Homo sapiens: one gene and its partners. The protein of the gene in region 2 interacts with the protein of the main gene of each other region in a pairwise test. Each region holds a gene or a part of one and is shown on either strand. Other genes may lie near its edges.

Region 1 (8,131 bases), on a different chromosome or scaffold from region 2:
GCTGAAGAGTTTAAGTTGTGACTGAATCTGATTTTTATTTTCACTCTGGCAGCTGTGTGCAAGATGGACTGGAGCCAGAGAGAGAGAAGGAGAGAGACAGAGGGAGCGAGAGGGTCACAGAGGGAGACAGGATGGGGGTGGGGGGTGCAGGAGCGTGTGTGCGTTCCCGTGTGTGTGTGGGTGTGTTTCGTGGTGCGAAAATGGAGGAACTGTGATTGCAAGCACAGAGATCCCAGAATTCCAGGGAAGAAACGATGAAGGCTGTAAACCAAGAGGCGTGGGGTGAAGAGGAGGGCTGGATTTGGGGCTGTGCAGGAAAGGAAATGGAAATGAGAGATGGGGACGAGGGTGAGGACGCCTCTGTGTTTCCAGCTGGTTGGCCTGGGTGGACTGTGCCATCTACAAGGCCAGACAAAGGAGAATTAACGCGTATTTCCAGAGATGCCGTTCTTGGTGCTAAATTTATAGAGGAATCATAGGTCGCCTCATGTCACTGATGCACCCTCAGCCACGGCCACACTGCGTTCAGCAGCAGCTGGTGCAAAAACATTGCTTTTGCTGCATTTCTAGCAGATCCTAGAAATCAAAGGCACATTTTTAAGTATTTTGACAAACAACTCGTCTAGCTACAGCTGAACAGGGCCGTAAAATTGATGGCGAAAATGAGTTTGTTTTCTAATTAGGGGTCAAACTCTTCTTGACAAATAGATTTTCAATATTCCAAAGCAACACAGATAAATGTTCTCATTGACCAGTTCTGCCTTTGTTTTGGGCCCGTAGCACACAAAGATGAGGTGCCCTCTGAGTGGCAGAGCTCAGGGTTGCAAAGGGTTGAGGAAATCAGCCGACCCTCAGGCAGGTCAGGCCACTCCATGGGCAGGGAGAGGATGAGAGGGCCGCACAGAGACCAGCAGGCTCTGTGGTGAACAGCCTGGACCGATCCGCACGCGGCCTCAGGCGGCTCTGTCATCCCCGTGTCTGTTTCTTAAAGCCTGACTCTGGGGGTCCTCTGAGTGACCCCGATAAACAAGCGTCTGCAGGAGGAGGAAGCTGTATTCGACTCTGGGACTGAGAACTAAGTCAGCTTTCCTTGGCATGGGGAGAAGAGCACCATTCTCCCCATTTGCTGCTCCGCGGGGCTCAGATAGGCCCTGCGTGCTGTTCACATCCTTCCTCTGGCAGAAGGCAGTACAGGGAGGCTTTTAAGGTGGATGGTGAGGTGTGGAGGGGAAGGTGAGTTACAGGAGGGAACCAAGGCCTCCTCTTGTCCCCTCCTTTGGAGGAAAGTCAGAAGGCATTGCTGCACAGACCAAGGATGTGGAGAAAGTAGAGGCCTGGGACAGGGGCGGGGGCGGACACGGGGAGGTGTCAGCCTGCAGTGTCCCATCTAGGGCTAGGGCTCACCTCAGGCAGCAGGGGACACCGCTGACACAGGTGACAACAACAGGACAGGGAGAGGGAGGGGACACAGGCTTGGGCAGGCAGGGTCACCTGAACCTTGTTTTGAGGGGAGCCTGTCTGGGCTGCCTTCAGGCGATCTGGCAATTCCCGTGTGGAGCTTGGAGAAAGGGAAGAGGGAGGCAGGATTTGGGGTCCGCTGACCTAGGGTGCTCTGCAAGCCGAGGAGTTGAGTGTTTTGGGAGACCCGGGGGCCTGGGGAGAGGCCCAGAACAGGGCCTGTAAGGACTGCAAGGCGGGAAAGCCCAGGAGAACTTGAGCAAAGCCCAGGGTGGGAATCTCACCCCGGGACAGGGCGGCAGAGCCGGGGCAGGAGAAGCTTCTGGAAAGAACCGTACACAGATCAAGTGTGCAGAGCAATGGAGACGGGCAATGAGGTCAAGAGGGAGGCCAGAGGGTCTGCCCAGCCGCAGGCGGAGGGGCAGGAGCCAGGGTTCAAAGCGAGGGGCAGGTGGGGTCAGGAGTGGGGAGGCCATGCTGTCAGTCACTTACGTGGGCCCAGCAGGTAGCCCGCGCTGTTCAGGGTCCAGCCTCGTTTTTCCTTGGCCTTGAAGGGAGAAAAGGGGATCAGATGCCAGGGCTGTGCCTGGAGCCTATGCTGAATGGGTGCACCCAGGCTTTCCCGGCATGGCAGAGGACTTAGAACAATGCATGTGCTTTTGGATAGCTCGCGAAATTCCAGGTTTACCCCTAAGTCGGCTATATTTGACATGAAAATGGAACCACTTTATTTACGAAATACTTCACTTGAGGGCCTGAGCCCGCGCACTCTCAGCGCACTGCACCTGCTTTAGTGACGCTGAGGCCACGCCAGTGGCTCCTAGCCCTCCATTCTAACTAAGCCCTGCGGAACGGGCGAGCTTCTCGCTTTCCCGAGGCGCTGACCCGAAGCGCAGAGCTCTCCCGGCGGCCTGGTTATAGCCCGGGGCTGTTGATACACTCGGAGAAGCGCGCGGGGGGAATCCCAGGGAGCCCCGGACCCTTCCCGCGACGCCCGCAGCCAGGACAGCGCCCGCCTTTCCACTTTCCACCCCCATCCCCGCGGGCAGGGCGGAGGCTGCCTCCTCCAGGAAGCCCTCCACGCCCGGCCGGCTCTGATGTCCCCTTCGCTCGGAGGAGACGCGCCCCGCACTTACCGGCGACCAGAGCCCCGCAGAGGCAGAAAGGGCCGCGGCGAGGAGGAGGGAGGCGAGCAGGAGGGCGCTGCCTCGGGCCATCTGGAAGGGAAGGACAGGGCGGGCGGGTCGGAACCCGGAGTGGGCTGCGCCCCGAGGCAAGGAGTGCCGGGGCTGCGGGGAGGAGCAGAGGCGGCGGCCGGGCCAGGGCCCTGGCAGAACCGTCCCTGGGCAGAGGAAAGCCGAAGGGGAGGCCTCCCGGGGGCGCAGGGTCGGCCCGGCGCCAGTAGTACCTTGAGCTGCGGCTGCGCCCGGGTTCGGAGCGTCGGGGTCCGGGTGCGGTGGCGGGTCTGGGCGGCAGGTCCGGGCGTCGGGCCGGGTCGGGTGGGCTCTGGCGGCCTGGGGCGCTCACCGCATGGCGCGGCCGGCAGCAGGGGCAGAAGGCGCGGGCCGGGTCCCTCCACGTGTCCGCCGCCCGGTGTGGCCGCCGCCACCGCCGCCGCTGCTATATATGCGGCGCACCCGGGAGCCGCCCGGAGTCGCGTCACCGGCTCAGCGCCCGCCTCCTGCACCCTCGCCGAGCCCCGAGGGCGACGGGAGTGACCCGAGCTCGGGTCCTCTGGGCCATCATAGGCGGGTGCGGCGGAGAGCCCCCCCTCATCCCGCGGGAGAGACTCCCCCAAATCTGCAGAGAGAACCCCAAACCCTGTGGGAGAGACCCTAATCCCGAAAGACAGAGCCCAATCGCCCCGCGGGAGAGCCCCCAGACCCGTGGCCCAAGTCATCGCTGTGGCGTCAACCCCACTGCTCCCCCCGGGGTCCCAGCCCCAGAGCAAGCCTGACCCCCCACAACGTCCCACGCCTGCGGTCTCCCTGCAGCTTCTCCTCCCAGCCCCTACCGCTGCAAAAGCCAGCTGAGCTCCGCAGCACTGGAGACCCCAGAGGGTGACGGGCAGGGACGACTCCTCAGTCCGAGCCAGCCCCAGCTGGGAGGTCATGGGGTACCCGGGGAATGGCGGGCAACACTTGGCCCTGCGCCCTGGCCGGCTTGTGCTGGGGCTGGAGCGAAGGTTCAGGCCTCGGGAGCCGTCGATGGCGGGGAGGGCAGGCGTTCCCGGCTCCCTGTGCCCAGCGACCTCCCTCCTGTTTCACTAAAGGGGGGCTGTGGATCTCAGGGTCTGCTTGGCCATCCCATTGTGGGAGCTGCGGGACCGTCGAGCATCCACAGGCACCAGCTCAGAAGCTCGGCCTCTCAGTGCCTCCCCTGGCTGCCTGGTCCAGTTGTAAGAGGGAGCTTTAAGCAGGTCCAGCCATTGGGCAACTGGTTAGGTCCAGAGGGAGAGCAGCCCAGACTCCCAGAGGCCGCCAAGGGGTGGGCGGTGGGCAGAGCAGCAGCAAGAGGCTGTCCTTGTGCCCAAGGCAAAGACATCCCACAGGAACAAGGCCCTCCTTGGCTCCTCCACAAACCCTTCCTGAGCTGGGGCCAAGTCCCGAAACAACCCAGGAGAGAACCCAAGCCTAGGCTGTTCCTTCACCCCATTCCCAGGCATCAGGGGAGCACAGGATCCCAGGCATCACACTTGTACAGTGTGGCACCTCCGGGCTTCCGAAGAGCACGGGGTCATCTGCTGAAAACTCGCCTGACCTCCCCTCCCACTGGCCAGACACCACCCAAGTCCTCAACAGCAGCAGCTGGGTTAGGATCTCCCCACCCACTGGGCTCAATATCAGATGGGTTGATGTCACATCTGTGGGTTGATGTCCACAGGGCACAGGACGAATGATGATCATGACAGTGTCATCTTACCTGTCCTCTACACTTTAGTCTTGGGAACCTTTGCACAGACAGCTACAGGCTGCCCCCAGGAGAGATCCGTCTGCCTCCACGTGGCTGGGGAAGGACAACTGGGCTTTCAAGAACTCTGGCGAAGGCCAGCGGCTGCTGGAGAAGGTGCAGGGCTGCAGCCTGGTGGCTGAGTGTCTGCTGTGGTTTATGGGAGGAAGAGGAGGAGACAGGACTTGGGGAGGGGTCTTAGGAACAGACTCCTGGCACGACAGTGGTGAGGGGTGGGGTGTTCCCAAGGGCACAGTTTGACTTCTGGTCATCCCTATTTCTTGCAGCCTGGGGAGAGGAGAGTCAGGCACAGGGGACCCTAACTAGGACTCACAGGCTGATTTCGGAGCCCACAGTAAACCCTGAAGTGGTTTCCTGCCGGGAGTGGGGGCGTGGGAGACAGTGAGTCGCCATGAGAGTCTGGGCCAGCCGTGGGCAGAAGGACAGCCGAGAGGCGGAGGAGCAGAGGGCACGTTCCTGTGACTCTGCAGAGAAGTGACAATGATGTCCTCTCATGCCCCATGTCCTTGTGTCTAGATGACATCAGGGAGTGGGCAGGGGCTGGGCTCATGGGTGCCTCTTGGCTACCTGAGAAATACTGCAACCTTTGGCCCCCGGTGGTAGTGGGAGCCCTGCTACCATCCCAGAGCTCTTTCTTGCTTTCTGCTGAGAACAAATCCAGCCCAGTGCATAGCACATCTTAGTCAATTCCAGCCTTCTCCTTTCTTCCACGTTAGGCCCCCTTCCAAATCCTGCCAGAGCTTGACTACACTTATTTTCTCTATTTACTTTGTCACAGAGGCTCTTAGTCTGTTTAAAGGAGCACAAACTCTAAACCTAAATCCTTGAGATGGATTCGAAAAGAGACTCAAAGTCCATCCCTTAGTCATGGGCTGGAATTTGAGGTACATTAAACTTTCAGCTGTCTTCATTTGGGCCTATGTACTCTTTTTGTTTCCTTTTTTGCTTTCAAAGAAACTTCAGACTGGGCGCAGTGGCTCACGCTTGTAATCCCAGCATTTTGGGAGGCTGAGGTGAGTAGATAGATCACTTGAGCCCTGGAGTCCAAGACCAGCTGGGGCAACATAGCAAGGCCTCATCTCTACTAAAAATAAATAAATAAATATTTTTTAAAAATCAGCCAAGCATGATGGCACGTGCCTGTAGTCCCAGCTACTCAGCTCAGGAGGCTGAGGTGGGAGGATCACCTGAGCCCAGGAGGTTGAGGCTACAGTGAGCCACGATCAAGCCTGCACTCCAGCATAGGCAACAGAGCAAGTCTCTGTCAAGAAAGAAAGAAGGAGGGAGGGAGGGAGAGAGAGAGAGAGAGAGAGAGAAGGGAAGAAGAAGAAAGAAGAAGAAGAAGGAGGAGGACGAGGAGGAGAAGGAGAAGAAGAAAAGAGAAGGAAGGAAAGTGAGGAAAGAGAAAGGAAAAAAAGAAAAATAAATTTCAGGCCGGGTGCGGTGGCTCATGCCTGTAATCCCAGCACTTTGGGAGGCCAAGGCGGGTGGATCACAAGGTCAGGAGATCGAGACCATCCTGGCTAACATGGTGAAACCCCGTCTCTACCAAAAATACAAAAAATTAGCCGGGAGTGGTGGCAGGCGCCTGTGGTCCCAGCTATTTGGGAGGCTGAGGCAGGAGAATGGCGTGAACCCAGGAGGCGGAGCTTGCAGTGAGCCTAGATCGTGCCACTGCACTCCAGCCTGGGTGACAGAGCGAGACTCCGTCTCGAAAAACAAAAAACAAAAAACAAACGAAAAAGAAATTTCAGGGTAGGTTATCTGGTCAGAGCCTCCTTATTAAAAAGACATTAAGCAACTGGAAACAAATCTTCACATGTATTTTGAATTCATTTAAGAAAGCTCCATTGAATAATTAGACACATGTATTCAAAATAAACATGCCCATGCCTGATTCCTCCAGGTCCCTAAGTTCTTTTTCCACGTGGGATGACACCCACCGTCTTGCTTCCCGCTTAGTCTGGGTGAGTGGGTCTCGGTATAAACCCTGGCTGGGACCCTGGCCCGGAAGTGCGGTGACCATGGGAAGGCTACAGACAAGCAAGGCAGTGGCCTGAAGGCGTGCTGGGGTTTCCTGAGGTCGGCAGATTCCTTCAGACAAATGAGGCCAGCACACCTGGGATGACAGACACCTGCCTCCCGGCACAGACTGTGCTGGAACCACAGCCAGTGTGCTAATGGCTCTTTGCTCAGTAATGACCCAATGGCAGTCATTGTCAACCTGTCATCTTGAAGACAGCCCAGTGTGCAGCAGACAAAGTGGGTCACCATTAGAGTAATCGAAATCAAGCAGAAAGCCTGATGTCCCCCGCTGCCTTCGAGCCAGCCCATCTTCCTTAGAAGCGCTGTCCACCACCAGGAAAAACCACCCTGAAGCTGAGAACTCAAGCAAGGGTCAAGGGTCACCTGGGCCATGCCCACTGCACGGGAGCTCAACCGTCCATTGCCTGGCAGTGGAGCTGCAGTGGTGAAATCAGCAGCAGGGTCCCTGCCCTTGCGGAGTTAGACCCTCACGGAGACCCATTACAGTTGGCCCCTCTGTATCTGTGAGTTCCCTGGCTGTGGGTTCAACCCACTATGGACTGGGTCCTTGTAGGTAGGCCTAGGATGGGTTTCTCTGTACGAATACGTACAGACTTTTTTCCTTGTCATTATTTCCTAAACAATACGGTATAACAACTATTCATGTAGCATTTACATTATACTCAGTATTATAAGTAATCTAGAGATGATTTAAAGCATGTGGGAGGGCCATCGCGGTGGCTTATGCCTGTAATCACAACACTTTGGGAGGCCGAGGCGGGCAGATCACTTGAGGTCAGGAGTTCGAGACCAGCCTGGCCAACATGCCAAAACCCTCTCTCTACTACATATACAAAAACTCAGCCAGATGTGGTGGCGGACATCTGTAATCCCAGCTACTCGGGACGCTGAGGCAGGAGAATCACTTGTACAACTGAACCCGGGAGGCAGAGGTTGCAGTGAGCCGAAACGGCGCCACTGCACTCCAGCATCTGGGTGACAGAGTGAGACTTCATCTCAAAAATAAAAAAGTTAAATTAAAAATAAAGCATATGGGAAGATGTGCGTAGGTTATATGCAAATACTATGCCATTTTATATAAGGGACTTGAGCATCCACGGATTTCGGTATTTGCGTGGCCAGGGGTTTCCTGGAACCAACCCACTGTGGACATGGAGGGCCAACTGTATGCAACAAATGGTTATTGTACAAATAACCACCCCATTGTCGTGGGAAGGAGATGCATGGATTAGGGGAGCTGAACCTGACAGGTGAGCAGGACTGACTGGGTACAGAATGAGGTCCAGCACACTCCAGGTGGAGGGGGTTACATGGGTACGCCCCCTTTTTGGTCCTTTTCCATTCCTTCTTCCTGCTGCCTGGAGTGTGGACGTGAAGGCTGGAGGTGGGCAACGAATTTGGACCATGAGGTGATGGCTTCAGGTGACACATCAAGGCCGAGGGAGCCTGGGTCCCAGTGACCCTGAGCCTGGTCCCTGGGCTGCACACTTCCAGGCTTGTTTCACAACAGAGGAGAAGAAGCATCTCTCTTATTTAAGCCAATGGCCCATAGAGGTTTTCCATCACGTGCGGTAGGAATTGTTCCAATCAGTTTCACAGTGGTCAACAAATGTTTGATGAATGAATGAATGAATGAATAAAAACACGTGAGAGGGTA
Region 2 (6,351 bases):
CAGGAGTTCAAGACCAGCCTGGCCAACATGGTAAAACCCTGTCTCTACAAAAATACAAAAATTAGCCAGGCACAGTGGTGCACACTTGTAATCCTGGCTACTCGGGAGGCTGAGGCAGGAGAATCGCTTGAACCCAGGAGGTGGAGGTTGCAGTGAGCCGAGATTGTGCCATTGTACTCCAGCCTGGCAACAGAGCAAGACTCCATCTCAAAAAAAAAAAAAAAAAAAAATTAAACATGGAGTTACCACATTAACCAGCAATGCCACTCCTGGGTACACACCCAAGAAAAGTGAAAAGAGGTGTCCAGACATACTCGGCCATGAAGGTGCACAGCAGGTTACTCACAAGGGCTGAAAAGCAGAAACAACCAGGTGTCCATCACCGATAAATGAGGAACCAAAATGTGGTCTATCCACACAATGGCTTATTATTCGGCCACAAAAAGAAACCAAGTACACGTGCTCTGACATGCCTGAAAATACCATGCAAAGTGAAATAAGTTAGACACGAGGCCACAATTGTGTGATTCCATTTATATGAAATGTCCAGAACAGGGAAAACCTATTTTAGACAACAGAGACACAAAGTCGATCAGCAGTTGCCAGGGGAGGAGGAAGACGGGAGGGGAAATGATTGCTTCACGGGGTGATGACAGAATGTTCCAGAACGTGACAGAGGTGGTGCCTACACAACTTTCTGGATGTACTAAATGCCGCTGATTGTTCACTTTCAAGTGATTGATTTTTAGGTTATTTGAATTTCATCTCAATTAAAAAACCCAAACACGCAAACTGCTCCCGCCAGCTCAGCCCCGAGCAGACGGCGCAGCCCGTGGAGGATGCTGAGCCACCCAGGCTTCTCCCCGCCCCTTCCTGGACTCTTCTCTCTTTTGCCTTTAATCCACTCTGCGCAGTCATTGCCTGTGTTCATCCTACCTGGCCGACTTCTCTCTCAATATTTCCTTGGTGAAACATCCTAAGAGGAAGTTACATTAGAGAAAATCACATATTTCATCTCATAGGCCGTAAACAGGGCCATTTAGGAAGCCATGTGTTAACGAGGGGAGACGGATGCTCTGTGCCGTGTGCAGGGATAACGGTGCCAGGCCAGGCAGTTACCAATCACGCGTGTGTTTAGGGCTCAGGAAAGCGAAGGAGAAGTGGGCAAGGGTGGCGGGCCCGCTCCGCACCGCCCAGCGCTCCGGACTTCACTTCTGGTCCCGCTCCTGGGCGGCCACGAAGTTCAGCAAGTCAATGGCGGTGACCACCCCGAACACCATCTGCCGCTGACTGGACTTCCCGGTGCTGTGGTCTGAGGGGAGAACGAGGCAGTGGGTTTGCAGGTGCCGTGGGAGGCTGGGTGGGCTGCTGCGGGGCAGGAGGCTCCTGAGGGCCTGGGGCACCTGTGCACCATGGGGGCCCAGGGTGGCTGGAGCCCAGCGGCGAAGGCTGTGTTCCTTTTTTTTTTTCTGAGACAGGGCCTCACTCTGTCCCCTAGGCTGGAGTGCAGTGGTGCAGTCTTGGCTCACTGCAACCTCCACCTCCTGGGTTCAAGTGATTCTCGTGCCTCAGACTCCCGAGTATCTGGGACTTCAGGTGCACATCACCACACCCAGCTAATTTTTGTATTTTTAGTAGAGATGGGGTTTTGCCATGTTGGCCAGGCTGGCCTTGAACTCCTGACCTCAAGTGATCCACTTGCCTCGGCTCCCAAAGTGCTGGGATTACAGGCGTGAGCCACTGTGCCTGGCCAAGCCAGTGTTCTTCTGACATGAGCCCCATGAGCCCCCAGGCCAGGTTCTACCCACCACGTGAGTCCCCTGGGCCCCAGGCCAGGCTCCACCCACCGCAGGTCAGGACACACCCTTCCCTGGCCCACCGGCTGAGCTCCTGAGGCACTCATGACTTCAGAGCCGGTGTGGGCATGAAATTCAAACCCGCTTACAGGGCCGGGCACAGTGGCTCACACCTGTGATCCCAGCGCTGTGGGAGGCCAAGGTGGGAGGATCATTTAAGCCCGGAAGTCTGGGACCAGCCTGGGCAACATATTGAGACCCTGTCTCTACAGAATATTTTTAAAAATAAATTAGTCGAGCATGGTGGCACACGCTTGTGGTCCCAGCTACTTGGGAGACTGAGGCAGAAGGATCAGTTGAGCACAGCAGGTCGAGGCTGCAGCGAGCTATGATGGCACTACTGCACTCCAGTCGGCAACAGAGCAAGACCCTGTCTCTAAAAACAGACAAAAACCCCTTGCCACCATGGGCAGCACACAGCTTCCATCTCTGGCCTGATTCTGTCTTCACCCCTCCTGCTTTCTCCTGGCAAGCGTAGACCCGGTGTTAATGCTGGCCGAGGCTCCCATGCCACATACCCAGACAGGGCTGTTGTGATGGTTAATTTTAATACAGATTAACGGGGCCGTGGGAGCCCAGGCATTGGTCACACGTCGTTCTGGGCATGTGTGAGGGGATTCCGGATTAGCACAAGAGTCAAGAGGCAGATAACGTGTGCTACTGTGGAGGGCCTCACCCAAGCAGTTGAAGGCCTGAATAGAACCAAAGGTGGAATTTCCTGCCTTGGGGCTTGAACTGCTGGCTCTCCAGTCTCCGGCCTGCCGCCTCACCCTGCAGATCTCAGGGTTTGTCAGCCTCCGTGATCTCATGATCCAGTTCCTTAACACAGATCTCGTTCCCTCTCTCTCCCCGCTCCCCACACATCCTCTTGGTCCTGCGTCTCCACAGGACCCTACACCAGCTGTCATGAGGCACAGAGGGGTGAGCAAGGTGCGGGTGAGGAAGAGCCCTCGGAGCCCGTCCCAACTCCGCCACGGCTGTCACTCCTCTCTTTGTAGGCAGAGGTCCCTTGGGGTGGCCCACTTAGAGCCCCAGGAAAAGATAGGGAACACAGATGAGATCAGCTCCTTGCATTTTGGGGAAACGGAGGCACAGCAACTGTTGGAGAAGGGAGCCCTGGGAGCCCTGAGTGCCGCAGGCTTCTGTGGCCCTGGCAGCTCGGCCCAGAGTCAATGGACTAGGGCCAGCCAGGGGACTTTCCGACAAGGGCCAGCTGGTGGTATTTTAGGTCTTGGGGGCTGTGCCGTCTCTGTTATGAGCACGCAGCCCTGACGTGCTTGAAAGCAGCCACAGACGGTGGTGACAAGCGTGGACATGCTCCAGGAAGACTTGATTTGGGGACCCTGACATTGGAATTTGCATCTTTTTTTTTTTCTGAGATGTTCAAACACAAGTAAATGTGAGATTAAGAGGGGGATCCCTCCTACCCAAGCTTGGGGGTGGGTCCAGGACCCTGGAAGGCCTCCATTTGCCATGGGGAGGCTGTGAATCTGAGCCTGAGAGCCATTCTGAGGGGTGGGTGATACCTACCTGCAGGCCCCCCCACCACGCCTGCCCAGGCCTGGTCCTGCGCTGCAGAGCCAAGGACGGGAGATGGGGTTAGACTTGGGGCCCTCACGGACCAGCCTCAGCCACCGAGCGCTCACCCCCTGCACACAGGCCTGGTGGGTGGGCAGGCTCCAGGCTCCAGGGCCCCTCCCAACTCTTCCTGTGGGCCCCAGGCCCAGGGCTGCCATCTATGACCCAAAACCTGCGAGCGACTCTCCTGGCCTGTGGGGATGTGGTGGGGACGCCCGGGGATGCGCTCAGGAGTTGCAAAACCTCATGAGCTTGCTGGGAGCGGGGCTCTGAGGACAGCCCATCAGTGGCTCCTGTGAGACCCACATGAGGCTTCCATTCAGAGCAGCCCTCCGAATGCCAGGGTCAGGACTTGAAACCCTTCTAGATGTTTCTGGGCTTGTCCCTGAGAATCCCCAAGACTGCTGGCCTCCCCGGAGGCAAGGGGCCTGGACTCCTGAGCCTCTGCATGCTGGACAAAGGGCCCTACCCAGTGTGGCCTGATGAGGGGTCCCTGCAGGAATCACAGGTACAGCCCACCAGCCCAGGGCATGTGGGAGGCCCGGGCATAAAGACTGGGTGTCACTGAAGGTCGGCACCACCCACTCCCCTAACACCCCGCAGGGGATGGGGGGCCCAGCTGCTGCCCATGGCAGAGGCCAGGCTTGGTGGCCTGACCCCAGTGAGAACCCCACGCACAGAGCAGGGCCCCACTCACACTGGATCTGCTCGTGCACCACCAGGGCGAAGTGGTCCATCTCCAGGATGTGCGAGAGCCTGCCCAGCGTGTCCGTGAGGCGGATCTGCAAGGGAAGCGTGGTCAGTGGCAGGGGGAACATGGCCCCACGAGTTTTCTGTGGAGTGAGAGGGGATGCGATGGTGGGTCCTGCAAAGCCCACCCGGGAGGCAGTGGCAGCCGAACGTGGGAAATACGTGGATTCGGGTGACGTCTCGGGTGTGTGTGTGAGATGGGAAAGAAGTCGAATTCACTCCTAGGTTTGGGCAGAACCCTCAGCCTTTCCAGTGTCAAGAGCCACACCTGCATGTCCCAGGGGATCCGTGTGGAAGGTCACACAAACTTTCCTGGGCCACCCTCAGGGCAGCAGAGGGTGGGTGTCTCAGGACAACCACGGAGTCTGACCAGCCCGGCAAGGAGCCACCGTGGGCTTCTCCCAGAATGTTCTAGCTCTTGTTGGATAACCAAGTGCATGCACAGGCAAATGAGGCTGGGCAGGAGAAAGACCCCAGCAGACGCCGCATGGTGCCCGGGACAGCCTCTGAGCGCGAATGACCTCCTTAAGTCCCCAAAACACGGCTGGTGTGGATGAGCCTGCACTGATGAGAGCCTCCTCTCCGGCTGCTGCACTTGTAAAGTGGGTGCTTCTCAGCTTCATGGTTTGAGGGGTGCAGCCAGCTTCGGCCTAAGTGGTGTTGAGGGTCGAGGACCCAGCACCCCCACACGGGAAGCGCGGTGTCCCGCCTTCGAGGCTGGAGTACTCTGGCACCCTCTGGGGTCCCGAAGTGCCTGAGTACCTGTTTGAGCCGCGTGTAGGTGACTGCGCACCTGTTTGAACTGCGTGTAGGTGACCGCGCACCTGTTTGAGCTGCCTGTAGCTGACCGGGCACCTGTTTGAGCTGCCTGTAGGTGACCGCGCACCTGTTTGAGCTGCCTGTAGGTGACTGGGCACCCGTTTGAGCTGCCTGTAGGTGACCGCGCACCCGTTTGAGCTGCCTGTAGGTGACCGGGCACCCGTTTGAGCTGCCTGTAGGTGACCGGGCACCCGTTTGAGCTGCCTGTAGGTGACTGGGCACCCGTTTGAGCTGCCTGTAGGTGACCGCGCACCCGCTTGAGCTGCCTGTAGCTGACCGCGCACCTGTTTGAGCTGCCTGTAGGTGACCGGGTACCTGTTTGAGCTGCCTGTAGGTGACCGCTCACCTGTTTGAGCTGCCTGTAGGTGACCGCGCACCTGTTTGAGCTGCGTGTAGGTGACCGGGCACCTGTTTGAGCTGCCTGTAGGTGACTGCGCATCTGTTTGAGCTGCCTGTAGGTGACTGGGTACCTGTTTGAACTGCTTGTAGATGACTTTGCCAACTTGGTCTGACGGCTGCACCTTCCCGGCAAGCAGGGACGAGAGCATGTTCCCAAGCGTCACCATTCCCAGGATTACCCTGTGGGACGGGGGCAGGCAGGGGTCAGCGCTCATACCTCACCCCTCCCAGGACGGTGGGGCACACGCTCAGCTGCCCCAGGGAGGAGCGCTCTCTGGCCACACATGGAAGTCCTCTGCCACGAGCCTACACGCGGCAGGAACCAGTCTGGGCCCTGGTGGGGAGAAAGAAACCAAGAGTCCTTGGACCCGTTCAGCCAGGGTCAAGGGTGACCAGCCGTCAGGTTTCCGCGACGTGGGGCTCTCAGTGGTCACTGGGCATGTGTGCCAAGGCTTTCTGCTGTCAGACATGTCCTCGGGGCATCTCTCCCCTGACCTCCAGGTGGGCCCAGGACAGCCTGCACACAAAGGGTGGGTGGGCTGAGGTCTGAGGGCCTGGAGTGAGCACGGCAGCCCTGCCCCAGGCTGCTCAGGGACCGGCAAGGGGCCTCCAATGCCCTGAACGTCTGTATGAGGCGGCCCAGGCGGGCCTATCAGCCCAGCTGCAGGGTCTGCATGGCTGCCCTGTCCAGTGACACTGACGGGGTGGAGCTGGGCAGACAGAACCCAGGACTGAGCTCTGAGCAGGGGCTGAGACTGACCCCGCCTCATCCACCACGGGCGCCTGGTCGAAGCCCTTCTCCCGGAGGATCTCGATGGTGTGCCCACAGGTGATGGTCGGGAGCACGGTCAGCGGGGCTGACAGGCCCAGCTCCTGAACACGGAGGTGCCACCACCTGAGGGAAGAGGGCAGGTCGGGGGGATCAGGATAAGGACAAACGCTCTCGCAC
Region 3 (7,206 bases), on a different chromosome or scaffold from region 2:
AGGTATGTGTTTTTGAGACCTTGCAGCCTGTAGATATCTTTATTCTACCCTCATCCTTGGATTTATAATTCGGCTGAATAGAGAATCTGCAGGAAAGCTTGGAATGTGTTTTCCTGCAGAATGTTGAAGGCATTGCTCCATTGCCTGCTAGCTGCTGGTGTTGTTGAGAGTCCAAGGCAATTCTGACTTTTTGTATGTGACTTTTTTTTCCTCTCTCTGAAAACTCATAGGATCTCTGTTTCCAGTGTTCTGAAATCTCAGGATGACTGTGCTTTGGGTGGGTCACTTTCATCCATTGTGCTGAATATTCGATGGGTCCTTTCAATATGAAAACTAATGTCCTCAAGTTCCAATAAATGTTCTTGAATTAGTTCCTCAATTATTTCCTTCCCTCTGTGTTGCCATTTTTCTTTTTCTATGACTCCTATTTAGATACTGGACCTCCTAGACTGATCCTTTAAATGTTTGTTTGTTTTGTGGGTTGTTGGAATCTTTCCTCTCCTTTTTTTTTTTTTTTTTTAAAGAGACAGGCTTTCATTCTGTTACCCAGGCTGGAGTACAATGGCGAGATCATGGCTCACCTGCAGCCTTGACCTTCTGGGCTCAAGCAATTCTCCTATCTCAGCCTCCTGAGTAGCTGGGACTACAAGTGTATGCCACTATGCCTGGCTAATTTTTATTTTTTTGTAGAGACAGGGTCTTGCTGTGTTGCTGAGCTGGTCTTGAACTCCTGGCCTCCCGCCTCAGTCTCCCAAAGTGCTGGGATTACAGGTATGAGCCACTGCACCTTCTCTCCTATTTTCTACTTTGTTGATTTTTAACTCTCCTTTCTGGGAAATTTCCTCATGTTGATTTTTGAAACCTCCAGCTGGGTTTAAATTTTTGCTACTATATTTTTAATTTCCAAGAGTTCCTTTTTGTTTTCTGAAAATTCCTTCTTTAAAAAATTGTATCCTATACTTGTTTCATGGTGGAAATAAGGTTTTTTGTTGTTGTTGTTTTTGTTTTTTTGAGACAGAGTTTCACTCTTGTTGCCCAGGCTGGAGTGCAATGGTGCAATCTCGGCTCACAGCAACCTCCACCTCCTGGGTTCAAGCGATTCTCCTGTCTCAGCCTCCCGAGTATCTGGGATTACAGGTACATGCCACCATGCCCAGCTAATTTTTGTATTTTTAGTACAGACAGGGTTTCATCATATTGGGCAGGCTGGTCTCAAACTCCTGACCTCAGGTGATCTGCCTGCCTCGGCCTCCCAAAGTGCTGGGATTACAGGCGTGAGCCACCGTGCCCGGCTGTTGTTTTCTTTAAAGATATACTACTTTCACAGGTATTGAGAAATATGTTCCTTTATCTAAGATTATATTAATGTTATTAAAGTTTTCTTCTCATCTTTTCCTTCCAGTTGCTTTTTTCCTGTTTGTTTCTTCTGTGTGTACATGAGGTTGGGAGAGGCAGTTTGCTTTTTCATTTTTATTTATTTTTTACCAGGGAGATACAGCCTTCAGAGTAAAACAAAGGTACATTCCAGAGTGGGGTGGGGGGCAGTTTGGATCACTTTTTTTCACAGATCCTTTCTTTAGATGTTTGGTAATCCCTAGTTTAAAGGAGAACTTAAACCATAACTTAAGAGTGGAGGCTTTAAAGCTGAGTGGAAGCTCTAAGTGTGTAAGTGAGCCTTGCTGACAGTGAGTCATTTGGATAGGGAACATTCAATACTTATATATTTTAGGACTTCCCTTCAAGAGGATTCTGGAGAGAAGGATTATTCAATTTCATGCTTGGAGGGTGAAGGCTCTTCTGCCAGCGCTCTGGAAACTGAAAAGGGGGAAAGGGCTGGAGGCTCAGCATCGAGTATAGTTCACTACATGCTCCTGTTTTCAGTGCAGTACTTCAGCCCTAAGCTGTGCCCGAGTCCCTTGCCAGATTTCCAGTCTCTGCCACAGTTGGGAGGCAGAGTTGCCCACTGTACTCAATGGGGTAGGGTGTCTTGGGATCTGACTGTTTCTTAGACCTTCAATGCTTCTTGGCTTTCCTCACTGCTAGTTATAATTCAGTTTTCTCAGGTCTAAGTCATTCATCACTCTTTTGTCTGCTTTTCAGCTTCCAAAAATTCATTGCTATTATCTCCTCTCCTGTTTTCCCTATGGTGTGTTTGTGTCTTTTTCTTTAAAAAAATTCCTTTATGGTGGTTTTAGGGGAGTTTTTGGGAATATATATTCAATGTACCACCTTTTTTTTTTTTTGAGACAGAGTCTTGCTCTGTCACCCAAGCTGGAGTGCAGTGGTGCGATCTCCACTCACTGCAACCTCCTCCTCCTGAGTTCAAGCGATTCTCATGCCTCAGCCTCCCAAGTAGCTGGGATTACGGCACATGTCACCATGCCTGGCTAATTTTTATATTTTTAGTAGAGACGGGGTTTCACCATGTTGGCCAGGCTGGTCTCAAACTCTTGTTCTCAAGTGATCCACCCGCCTCAGCCTCCCAAAGTGCTGGGATTACAAGCATGAGCCACTACGCGCAGCCCAATCTACCAATCTACCGTCTTTAACTGGAAGCCTACCATTGTTATTCAAACTTGAGAATTCAGACTCCCAAGAACATGTCTTTGGACACCAGTTGAAGATACATACACTACATTGATAGTTAAATACTATCATTCAGGCCACAGGCCCATAAACATATTGGATTTGGCTTTCTCAGTGTTTGTTTGTTTATAATTGAGACAGGATCTCACTCTCTGCCCAGGCTGGAGTGCAAAAAATTTTTAATTTTTTGTAGAGACAGGGTCTCACTAAGTTATCCAGGCTGGTTTCGAACTCCTGAGCTCAAGTGATCCTCCTGCCTTGGCCTCTCAAAGTGCTGGTGTTACACTGTGCCCAGACTTGAAGATCTGGCAAAAATAGGTCTTAGTTGACCAGACCTAGATAGTTGTCGCCTTTTTTTTTTTTTGAGACGGAGTTTCACTTTTGTTGCCCAGGCTGGAGTACAATGGCATGATCTCGGCTCACTGCAACAAAATCTGCCTCCCAGGTTCAAGCGATTCTGTGATTCTCCTGCCTCAGCCTCCCAAGCAGCTGGGATTATAGGCGCCCACCATCAAGCCCAGCTAATTTTTTCTACTTAGTAGAGATGGGGTTCCACCATGTTGATCAGACTGGTCTGTAACTTGTGACCTCAGGTGATCCACCTGCCTTGGCCTCCCAATGTGGTGGGATTACAGGCGTGAGCCACCACACCCAGCTGCCTTTAGTTTTTTGAGACAGAGTCTTGTGCTGTCGCCCAGGCTGGGGTGTAGTGGCACAGTCTCGGCTCACTGCAACCTCTGCCTCCCAGGTTCTAAAAATTCTCCTGCCTCAGCCTCCCGAGTAGCTGGGATTACAGGCATGCAGCTCCACGCCCAGCTAATTTTTTATTTTTAGTAGAGACAAGATTTCACGATGTTGGCCAGGCTGGTCTTCAACTTCTGACCTTAGGTGATCCACCCACCTTGGCCTCCCAAAGTGCTGGGAATACAGTCATGAATCACCATGCCCGGCCCAGCTGTCGCCTTCTTTTCATATGTAGTTCACTTCACTGCTTGGTCCATGTAGGCAATTTGAGTTTCTAGTTTCTGCCTTGGTGCTAATGCAAATGTACTCAGAAACATAAAATAGGCACTGGCCAGCATTGGAACTGTCTTCCCTGTGCTCTGGATTTTAGAGGTTTAGTGCTTCTATTACTAGATTAGTTCTAAGAGCCTTTTCCTAATTTTTTTCTTTCTTTTTTTTTTTTTTCTGAGACGAAGTTTCACTCTTGTTGCCCAGGCTGGAGTGCAATGGCACGATCTTGGCTCACTGCAATTTCTGCCTCCCTGGTTCAGGCAATTGTGCTTCAGCCTCCCAAGTAGCTGGGATTACAGGCATGCGCCACCACACCTGGCTGATTTTGTATTTTTAGTAGAGACAGGGTTTCACCAGGTTGGTCAGGCTGGTCTCAAACTCCTGAGCTCAAGTGATCCACCTGCCTCGGCCTCCCAAAGTGCTGGGATTACAGGTGTAAGCCACTGCACCAAGCCCTTTGCATAATTTTTGGTGTACATTCAGTGGCTTTAGTGAGCTTGCTGGGTGATAAAATCCTGGTAGCACTGTTTCTGGACTATGCAGAAAATACCCAGGACTTCTAAAACATGGTAGCCAGCCCAGAGTTGCCTATGGAAGTTTTGCCTGTACCTCAGATGTTTCTCTCAAGTGGTTTGATAATTGAAGATATTAATCATCCCCACTCTGCCCAAGATTTATTCCTGGGTGATCTTGCCAAACTACTGTCACTGATTTTTGTGGTTTGGCACATTATCTGGCCCTGCTTTGATTTTTCCAGGGGAGAGATTCAAAAGCATTGTTGAAGACATTGTTAGGGTCAGGCTATTGTTTTCATGCCCAGTTTCCTTTCTTCAGTAAACTTACCTTGAGGATGCTCATTTTCCACAGCTGGGGAGCTATCTGAAGAAATGACCTGGAGAGATAAGAAAACAGATTCAGCTTAACCTGGTTCCATCCATTTTAGCCTAGCAACATTAGGGGAAGGGCTGGTGAACAAATAATGACTTTCTTTAAAGCACTATAAAGCCACTGCCCCCGCCAAACCCTTTTTTTTTTGTTTTTGAGACAAGGTCTCGCTCTGTCACCCAGGCTGCAGTGCAGTGGTGTGATCACAGCTCACTTCAGCCTTGACCTCCTCGGGGTCAGGTGATCCTCTCTCACCTCAGCCTCCTGAGTAGCTGGGACTACAGGTGCAAGCCACTATACCCAGCTAATTTTTGTATTTTTAGTAGAGATGGAGTTTTGCCATGTTGCCCAGGCTGGTCTTGAACTCCTGGGCTCAAGTGATTGCCCTCCTTGGCCTCTCAAAGCACTACGATTACAGGCACGAGTTACTGCACCCAGCCTTATAAGGCTCTTCAGAAATATGATCTCATTTAATCTTCATAACAACCCTGAGGTAAATACTATTATTAGCCTTATTTTCACAGATTGTCTCTGAGGGTCAAGAGACATTAAGCAACTTGCCCAAGGTCACATGGCTGATAAGGGGTGGAGTAGGCATTCAAACACCTATCTTCTGGTTCCAGAGCTTGTGGTTTGCTTTTGTTTACATCAAAATTTTAATAAATAACATACTTGAAAAAACAAATTTTTAAAAAACTACGTATACCTAACAAAATAATTTCTTATAACTGATGAAGAGTTTGGTTGGGTTTATCTTGGCAGTGTTCATTTTTGTAAATTTTTTTGTTTGTTTTGTTTTGAGGCAGAGTCTTGCTCTGTTGCCCAGGCTGGAGTGCAGTGGCGTGATCTTGGCTCACTGCAACTGCCTCCTCCTGGGTTCAAGCAATTCCCGTGCCTCAGCCTCCTGAGAGCTGGAATTACAGGCGTGCACCACCACACCCACCTAATTTTCATATTTATAACAGAGATGGGGTTTTACCATGTTGGCCAGGCTGGTCTCAAACTCCTGACCTCAACTGATCTGCCCGCCTCAGCCTCACAAAGTGCTGGGATTACAGGCATGAGCCACCACGCCCGGCCATTTTTATAAAATTTTTGAATGTATTTACTCCATTCTGATGAAATTCTACCTCTCTGGAATCACAGAAGAGAAGAAACCAATACTGCTACAATATTGTGCCTTCCAGAAATGCTTCTATCCACTTCTGAGCTGAACGAGCATTATCTGCAAAGCTCATGTTCTTGTACACTATACTGCCTAATGAAACACTAGGTCCTAAAAGCTAAGACTAAAGATCTGAGCTTAGGGCTAACCCCTACAAGATTCTCACAGATCTACTTTATTAAAACATGGAAGCCAGAGAGACAGCATTGTCTTCCCCAAACACAGACACTCACTAGGCATAGTTGTAGGCACTAGAACCACAGACACTGGTTCCACCATTGTCTAGCTCCATGGCAGAGAGAGAGCCACAACTGGGGAGGATCCCAGTAGCTGACTGTCAGCCAGTCAAAACCTGAATGACTGAGAGGTGGATAAGGAACACGAATGTACTGAAACTGGGAACTTGAGTCCACTCAGCACCCTTGTGAGTCAAAGGCTGCTATAGCCAGGGGATGCTGGTTTTCCAAGTTTCCCTTCCCAAGATAGTCTGAGATTAGAGAGTGCTTTGACTAGACAAAACTTAGAACCATTTCTGTGCTCCCTCAAGTGGGAACATTTGGAAATGCCATTGTTATTTAGGAACCCAGAAGGGATCACAACAATTTTCATCTGCTAGCATCAACAGTCTTGGCTCCATTTTCTCTGGGTGATATCTCCAAAATAAAACCATACTTCATCCCCATAGCTTCTGTAGTAACATGACATTAAAAACTTCAACCTGGGAGGTTGGCTGACAAACTTCCTAAACCAGGGAAGTTTAAGACAGCCCTAAACTTTTCTCCCTTAATGGGCTAGGGGAGAGTGCAGGGAGTAAGGGGGATAATCTCCCTCTTCCCACTGGACTGCATAAGACTGTCAGCTTGGCCTGCCATTTTGGCAAGACTATCAGAACAACAGCCTCATCACTTATAAGTGGGAGAGAGGGCTGTGATAAAGATAGACACATGATATATCAGAGTCTCACAAAGATCTACACAAAGGCACAAAAACAGCTACTTCTGTAGAATTTACCCATCATATGATATATACTGTACTGTGCTACAGTTATTTTGTTCATTATCTATCCAAACAGATTATAAATTCCTGGAAACCTAGAACTATCTTATACTTTGTATCTCCCATACCACCAAGCACAGGGTTTTGCATATAATTCACAGTTGTTTTGTTTTTTAATTCTCAAAGAATGATGCACACTGATATGAACAGATATGCCCAAGACTAAGTTACAGAGGGAGGAAAGAAACATAGAGCTAACTAGAGATACAGATACCAACATAAGAGAGTCAAACACAACTGCATATGTGACTTTTTTTTTGGGCGGGTGGGCAGAGTCTCGCTGTGTCTCCCAGGCTGGAGTGCAGTGATGCGATCTTGGCTCACTGTAATCTCCGCCTCCGGGGTTCAAGCGATTCTCCTGCCTCAGCCTCCCAAGTAGCTGGGACTACAGATGCCTGCCACCACGCCCAGCTAAGTTTTTTTTTGTATTTTTAGTAGAGACGGGGTTTCACTATGTTGGCCAGGCTGGTCTTAAACTCCTGACCTCGTGATCCACCCGC
Region 4 (7,206 bases), about 36 Mb from region 2:
ATTGATGGAAAGATTTGAGACATAATTGACATCTTTGCTGATAGAGACTAGCGGCCACCATGCTCTCGGGCTGCCTCTGAGGGGAAGGGAGTTTACTGGTGGTCATGAAGCCAGGTGTGTGGGTCTAAGGGTGCCAGGTGTGTGGGTCGGGTGAGGGCTCTGATTTGAGGTGACCTCACCAGGTACCAGCTGCGTGAGTGATTCTTCAAGCCACCCACTGCCATGGGCCTGTTCTCTGCTCTGGGGATGGAGAGGAGGGCCACCGTTTCTCTAAAACCCTCTCCTACCCGGATGTGCTGTGGGGAGTCCTTCATCCTCTGCCCTGAGATAGCCACGGGGAAAATCAAACAATAAAAACCAGGTCCTGGGAGGCTGGAGTGTCCTCTCCAAAGCAGGAGGGCAGATACTGATCCTGGGTCTCTGAACGTGCAGTGTTCCCAATGGGATGCCCCCTCCTCCTCCAGAAAGTGTAGGCCACGGGCAAAATGGGCAACCCCTTCACAGAGTCCACTAAAGCCAGTTGCCAATTTTGGATCAGAAACAAGCCCACTGCTGTGAAGGGCATGGCCAGCACCTGCCCACTGCAACCCAGTCAATAAGACTAGGAACCCCACCAAAAAATAGGGAGGCAATGGGGTCCCCTAGACTGTCAAGAGCACCCCAACCTCTCACTAGTAACCAGGGAGGTGGTGCAAATTAAGATATCATTAGAGCAAACAAGGTAACTCCAAGTGTTGATGAGGGTGAGGGAAGCAGGGCCTCACACGTCACTGGTGTCACTGAGGAAGGCAGTGCTGGGTATCTGCCAACCTTGGCAATATGCACAGCCCACCAGCCTCCGTCGTGCGTCTAAGCAGATTCCCTGGAGAAATGCAAGGAGCCTAAAGAGACATGTACAAAGATCTTGATTGCAGGGTTATGAAATGGTTTTAAAATAAAATAATTTAGATGTTCATCAATGCGGGAATGAACAAGTGCAACATTGTATATGTATACATGAACTATTACACAGCCTTTAACAAATTCGCGCTGACAAACTTCACTAGACACGTGTGTATCAACAGGGATTAATTGAAAAGACATGGTAGAGGAAAAATGCCAGTTGTAGAATAATTTGAATAACAGCTTATGATTTATGTAAAACAAGTGCTATCTATAAGTCCGTTACTTAAATTTCTGGGAGAAGGCAAAGCAGCTTCACCCTCTGGGTGAACCCTGGAAAGGGGGAGGGTGGGAACCACGATGGAGAGGAGTGGCAACTTCTTCTGTGATTTTTATTGAAGAGAATATGGTCTTGCGTAAGTTCTGTTTCCTCTAGTGATTGAATACTACTTTCTAAATTGAAAATTATATCACAGGCACTTTGCTGAGTAATTAGAAATTCTTCCAAACCATGATTTCTAATGAATGCACGGTAAATAGATTTGCTATCAGTTATGGAGTTTTTCTTCTTTCTTCTAAATAACCCTAAATAACCTTCTAACTTTCTTCTAAATAGCCCTAAATAGATGGTTCATGTGCAAAGTTTTGCCTATACAGTACTTTGTGCTCTTTCCTCGGGAGAAATTTCTGGAAGTAGAATTATTAATGCAAAGAGTGTGGGCATTTTAAGACTCTCAATACCTATTGGCAAATTGCTTCACATAAAAGTTGAAAGGTCTGTCCTTAAGTCCTGCTGCATCTTTTACACATTGAGCAGAACTTTTATCCTTTTTATTGAAAAAATCTTTGTGAACTTGACAGATGAGAAAAATGCCGTCTCGGAGCTATTTTATTTCCATTTTTATTGTTAGTGACAATGAACTCCTATGTTGGGTCATCCGTCGTTTTTCCTTTAATTTAAAATAACTGTCTGCCTGAAATCCCAGCCAGTCAGGAGGCTGAGGCAGGAAAATTGCTTGAACCGGAGAGGTGGAGGTTGCAGTGAGCTGAGATTGTGCCACTGCACTCCAGCCTGGGTGACAGAGAAAGACTCCATCTCAAAAATAAAATAAAATAAAATAAAATAAAATAAAATAAAATAAAATAAAATAAAATAAAATAAAATAAAAACTGTCTGAATCTAAAGAAACGCAGCAGCTACCTAAATTTTGTCTAGGTTTTTGGTTTTGGTTTTTATATGTAATTTGAAGTTTGAGGTAAAATACAAATGTGAGGTTTTTCCACAAAATTTTCCCACACCATCAAGGAGATGCTGGGCCCACGGATCATTGGAAGACCAGGTTTTAGGTCTTGCTGTCAACTTTCTTTCATTTTTTCTACCTTTGACTTTGGAATCAGACTAAGGTGGGTCTGAGAGCAGGACTTACACTGACCAGGTCTGTGCCACACACAGCTGTGCCGCAGTGCCTCCCACCAGTAGGATGGCTGTGAGATTAATTTATGTCATGAGCATATATGATGTCTTCAGTGTGCCCTATAATTCTGCATTGCTGTCATTGTCATTCTGTTGTGTATCCTCAAAGGGGAAAACTCTTTTTGTTGTGACAGTGGGTGATGCCGGCTTGCTCTCTGTTGCAGGCTGCATGATCATTGCAATGACCCTTCCCTAGACGACCCCATCCCCCAGGAGTATGCCCTTTTCCTCTGTCCAACGGGGCCCCTGCTGGAAAAACTTCAAGAGTTCTGGAGAGAGAGCAAGCGCCAGTGTGCAAAGAACAGAGCTCATGAGGTCTTCCCACACGTGACACTCTGTGACTTCTTCACGGTGAGTCAACCCAGTGTGCCTTCAATGCTCACGGCAGCTGGAGGCATTTTTCTGTGCTAACTAGGCCATGATGGGACAAAGTTGACTTATTTAAATGGGATAGTCCAGAACTGCATCATTAGCTGGCACCTTCATATGAGCTGTCCTTTATTTTCCTCTTTGCCTTCATCTGGTCAACTCCTATTAATCCTTCAGAACCCAACTCATTTATCCTCTCCCCTTTTTGAGTCTTCTCCAGCTCCCCAGGCAAAAGGAGTTGCTGCCCATTTTCTCGTTCATGTGTCTAGTGGCACTTTTGTATCATACGGGCCATGTGTCTGGTGCAGCACCGCATCCCTCACCAGACCGAGTCCCTCAAGGGAAGGCAGATACCTCACTCATCTTTGCACCCCCAGAAACTAGCACAGCCCCTAAAACAGAGTTTGTGCTTCCAAAATGTGTGGTAAGTCAACTCAAGGATGGGTGATTGTTGGCTACCCACAAATGCAGAACTTTTCCCTGTCTCAGGGACCAGCCGTCTGATTCAGAAAAAAAATGGCCCAGTGGGTAGCTCCACAGCAAAACACAATGGCCCAGCAGGCAGCTCTACAGGGGCACCGGGAAGACAAGAAGAATGTGGGAGCTGCTCAGGAGAAAAGAAGGAGAAGGGAGAGACAGACAGCCACTGCTCTACTCAGCTCCGCCAGAGGGGCTTAAGGAAGGGCACACCCACTTCTGCTACCGCGGCCTGGCCCCAACTCTGCTGTTGGCAAACTGATTTGTTCCACCCATTTCAAGGAATTCCATCAGGGCCCAAGGAACCCTCCATTCCAACACCAGGCCCCTCGGTGCTGGATGGAAAGGAGGAATGCAAACCTCTGAAGGGAAAAGATTTCTGGAAGATGTCCCAGGAGAAGCAGTACCTTCCAAAGCCTCCAACCACCACCCCGGATTGCCCGAGACTTGCAGGGATCCCCAGAGCACAAGACTAAACCTGGAAAAGCCCCAGAAAAATCGAGAGAGTTTTCCCCCTACATCGACATCAATGGTACTTGTGACAAGCTGACTCCCTTCTGGTTCACCCTCTGGAGCCAACGGGGAAAGGCAAGGCAGCCCAAGCCATGTGACACAGCTCAGAAATCAGAGCAGGCCTTGGCCCCCCACTCCTTCCCCAGCCCACTGAGGTGCAAGCACACACACACACACACAGATAGACACAGAGACACACACATAGCTCACACACATAGACACACACAGATTGACACAGAGACTTACACATGCACACAGATACACACACATACATGCATACAGACATACATAGATATAGACACACAGACACACACAGATAGACACAGAGACGTACACACGGCACACACAGATACACACACATACATGCATACAGACATACATAGATATAGACACACAGACACACACAGACATGGAGACGTACACACGGCACACACAGATACACACACATACATGCATACAGACACACACAGAGACACAGATACACACAGACACACACAGATAGACACAGAGACGTACACAGCACACACAGATACACACACATACCTGCATACAGACATACATAGATATAGACACACAGACACACACATATATACATGCATACATGGATACAGACATACACAGACACACACAGATAGACACACATACACACTACATGTACATAGGTACACATGCAAACAGATACACACAGATATACACACACAGGAATACACAGATACATGCACATAGACACACACAGACACACACAGAGACACACATTAGATAGACACACATGCACAAACACAGACATGCACATACATGCACATACATAGACAAATGCACACATACAGACACACACATAAGCACCACATGCACACATATGCACACAGATACACACATGCATACACACAGACACACATATAGACATACGCAGACACACAGACACACATAGACATACGCATATGCAGACACACACACAGACACACACACATATAGACATATGCAGACACAAACACACTCACACACCTCCCTCTGTCGTTAGCTCCTCCCAGTCCCCCACCCCAGTTCTGGCCTGGCCGTGGTTAGTGGAGCTCCCCTCACAGGCAGAAGAGTGTAACGGAGACTCACTGTGTACCTTGATGCTGTAAAATGAAAACACTAATCTTCCGAAGTGTGATATTGATCACAGCTACACTTATAACATGACTATTCTTGAAAATTACATATCTGAGGCCAAGAAACACAATGTGAGACGGATTCAGGAATGGACATGTGTTCACTGGGTGGTTTTGTGTTGAGTGCCGTTGAGGGTTGCAGAGAAAACAGACAGGGAGGAATGTCAGGCCGGCCTGTCCATGGGGAGACGGAAGCTGCATTAAACACTGTGATCTGGCCTCATACTTGGGCTTGTAAGAAGCACTGTGGGAAATTCCGAGGGCAGCCCGGTGCTGGGAAGAGAAGGGATCAGGCCAACTCCCGCCAGGAGGGTGTGGTGTCTGGGTTTCCCCTGTGGTCCGATGTGGCCAATGGCACTGGGAAGGTTTTCAAGCCCAGGAAGCAGCCTCCCCAGGGCGGTAGGCAACACCGAGCCCAGATGTCAGGAGAGGCTGCGTCTGGCTGGAGGATGGGGGTGGGAGCCCCGTGGGCAAGGCTGTCGGGCCAGCACCTGTCGGGCTCCGTGGGCCTGAGGGATTCTCCAGGTGACAGAGAGCCTGCGGCCTCAGGGGTGGGAGCTGCATCAGAAAGAGGGTCCTGCAGCCACTCAGGGGGCATCAGGGAGGCCGGGCCAGGGGCTGTGCAGGCTCAGGTCCTCCAGGGAGCAGACCCCAAGGCAGAATTCCCAGTGCAGGAGACGCACAGGGGAGAGACTGCTGGTGAAGGCAAAAGAGGAGGAGAGGGTTGGAGGCAGGCAGAGCCTCAGTGCCTTAGAGGAGTCCCTGTGGAACCCGACTCAGTGCTCAGCCGTGGAAGAGAGGGTGGCCCCGCAGCTGGAAGTGCAGCTGAGTCCCGCTCACTACAGGCTCTGAGCAGTGCCTGGGCAGCCTTGGAGTCTGCTAGAAACCTCCAGAAGCCAAATCATGCAAACCTGAGCAAAGCAGTGTGCCATGGGACTGAGGAAAGGGCCTGGCAGGTGATGAGCACGTGCCATGGAGGGAGGGGATGCAGTTCAACGACCAGGGGATTTCCAACCTGGGCACCTAAAGGAGACTCCAACCTGCAAAGAAACTTACCTGAAATATTTGAAAAAACCGAGGTCCAGGTATAGAACAAATCCATAACCCCAGACACAAAGGGACGCAATAAATTATGTTACAGCGCTTTGAACAGAAAAGAATCTCACTTTAATTGCTGCCTGATTGTTATTAATTAAATTAATAGATGACTTCTGATGAGAGGTGTGGAAACACAGGCTCTGTCTCTGTCCCCTTAGTGTGAAGACCAGAAGGTGGAATGCCTGTACGAGGCGCTGAAGAGAGCTGGAGACAGGCTCCTGGGCTCCTTCCCCACGGCCGTGCCTCTGGCTCTCCACTCCTCCATCAGCTACCTCGGCTTCTTCGTCAGTGGCAGCCCCGCAGACGTCATCCGGGAATTCGCCATGACCTTCGCCACGGAAGCATCTCTCTTAGCAGGTGGGCAGCCCTGGCCAGTTGCAAACACAGGGCTGGATTCACAGTGAGTGAGCCCTCTGTGGCAGGGACTAGCCCCCGGCACATGGATGCAGTGGGTGGGTTCCAGGGGAGCAGAGCCCAGCAGCAATGGTGGGATGGCTGGGTGGGCTTTCTTCCGGGCTCAGTGGCTGCACCTGTCCTCACCCAGGCACTTCCGTTTCCCGCTTCTGGATTTTCAGCCAGGTGCCTGGACATGGCCCTAACCTGAGGCTGAGCAATTTAACTAGAGCCTCCTTCGTGAGCCACTACATCCTTCAAAAATGTAAGCCATTAGAAAGCTTCCGGACCAGCTTTGGTCTTCTCTTTAGGCGGGAATAGCCTTGTTCTCATTATGTGGTTTTTAAAATGCTTAGCTATATGCCAACAGCCTGGGAAAGTGCCCCAGAAGGGTGTGCCAAGCATCAAGCCTGAGTGGGTGACTGTGACGGGGTTGGAGGCTGGTGCACACAGGGAGTCAGGGCCTCCCCACCCCAGCCTTGAGTGGGAGACACACAAGTCCTACGTGACTTATTTCTGTATTTTCAGTATGAGCTTAGTGCTCTCTCCTTGGCCTCTCCAGGGAAAGATTATTTAGACTCATATTCAGAATCATCAAAATTCCCTTCTCTCCAAACACCAGCCCTGGCCTGGAGACCAAGGCTACCATTGGGGTTTAGTGGAAAGGATTGTGGACTTGACGTCAGAAGATGTGATTTTTTTCTGTGTCCCTGATGAGTGGCATGACCTTAATCAAGTCATGTCCACTCTCTCTGTCTCTTTTTCTTTCTCTACAAAACAATGAGGGCTCTCACTCTTCAAGAACAATGTTGCCTGAGTCTGTGGCCCATCCTGCCATAGTTCCCGGGA

The links.
Region 1: the proteins of cystathionine beta-synthase (region 2) and GAL interact in binary tests that used the Homo sapiens proteins (3 or more experiments, as listed by UniProt).
Region 3: the proteins of cystathionine beta-synthase (region 2) and PRKAG1 interact in binary tests that used the Homo sapiens proteins (3 or more experiments, as listed by UniProt).
Region 4: the proteins of cystathionine beta-synthase (region 2) and UBASH3A interact in binary tests that used the Homo sapiens proteins (3 or more experiments, as listed by UniProt).

What each region holds. Positions count from the first base shown.
Region 1 is NC_000011.10:68,679,468-68,687,598, reverse strand, and holds the start of GAL (galanin peptides preproprotein), read right to left. Parts: upstream 3,056-8,131; 5' UTR 2,867-3,055; intron 2,676-2,866; coding exon 2,595-2,675; intron 2,006-2,594; coding exon 1,951-2,005; intron 1-1,950. UniProt on the Homo sapiens protein: Endocrine hormone of the central and peripheral nervous systems that binds and activates the G protein-coupled receptors GALR1, GALR2, and GALR3.
Region 2 is NC_000021.9:6,444,350-6,450,700, forward strand, and holds the end of cystathionine beta-synthase, read right to left. Parts: intron 6,298-6,351; coding exon 6,163-6,297; intron 5,737-6,162; exon of another isoform or gene 5,620-5,736; intron 5,583-5,619; coding exon 5,474-5,582; intron 4,217-5,473; coding exon 4,132-4,216; intron 3,429-4,131; coding exon of another isoform or gene 3,387-3,428; intron 1,313-3,386; coding exon 1,209-1,312; 3' UTR 520-1,208; downstream 1-519. UniProt on the Homo sapiens protein: Hydro-lyase catalyzing the first step of the transsulfuration pathway, where the hydroxyl group of L-serine is displaced by L-homocysteine in a beta-replacement reaction to form L-cystathionine, the precursor of L-cysteine.
Region 3 is NC_000012.12:49,008,619-49,015,824, forward strand, and holds part of PRKAG1 (5'-AMP-activated protein kinase subunit gamma-1), read right to left. Parts: intron 4,493-7,206; coding exon 4,444-4,492; intron 772-4,443; exon of another isoform or gene 691-771; intron 1-690. UniProt on the Homo sapiens protein: AMP/ATP-binding subunit of AMP-activated protein kinase (AMPK), an energy sensor protein kinase that plays a key role in regulating cellular energy metabolism.
Region 4 is NC_000021.9:42,406,902-42,414,107, forward strand, and holds part of UBASH3A (ubiquitin-associated and SH3 domain-containing protein A), read left to right. Parts: intron 1-2,520; coding exon 2,521-2,707; intron 2,708-6,122; coding exon 6,123-6,321; intron 6,322-6,508; coding exon 6,509-6,622; intron 6,623-6,657; exon of another isoform or gene 6,658-7,206. UniProt on the Homo sapiens protein: Interferes with CBL-mediated down-regulation and degradation of receptor-type tyrosine kinases. Promotes accumulation of activated target receptors, such as T-cell receptors, EGFR and PDGFRB, on the cell surface.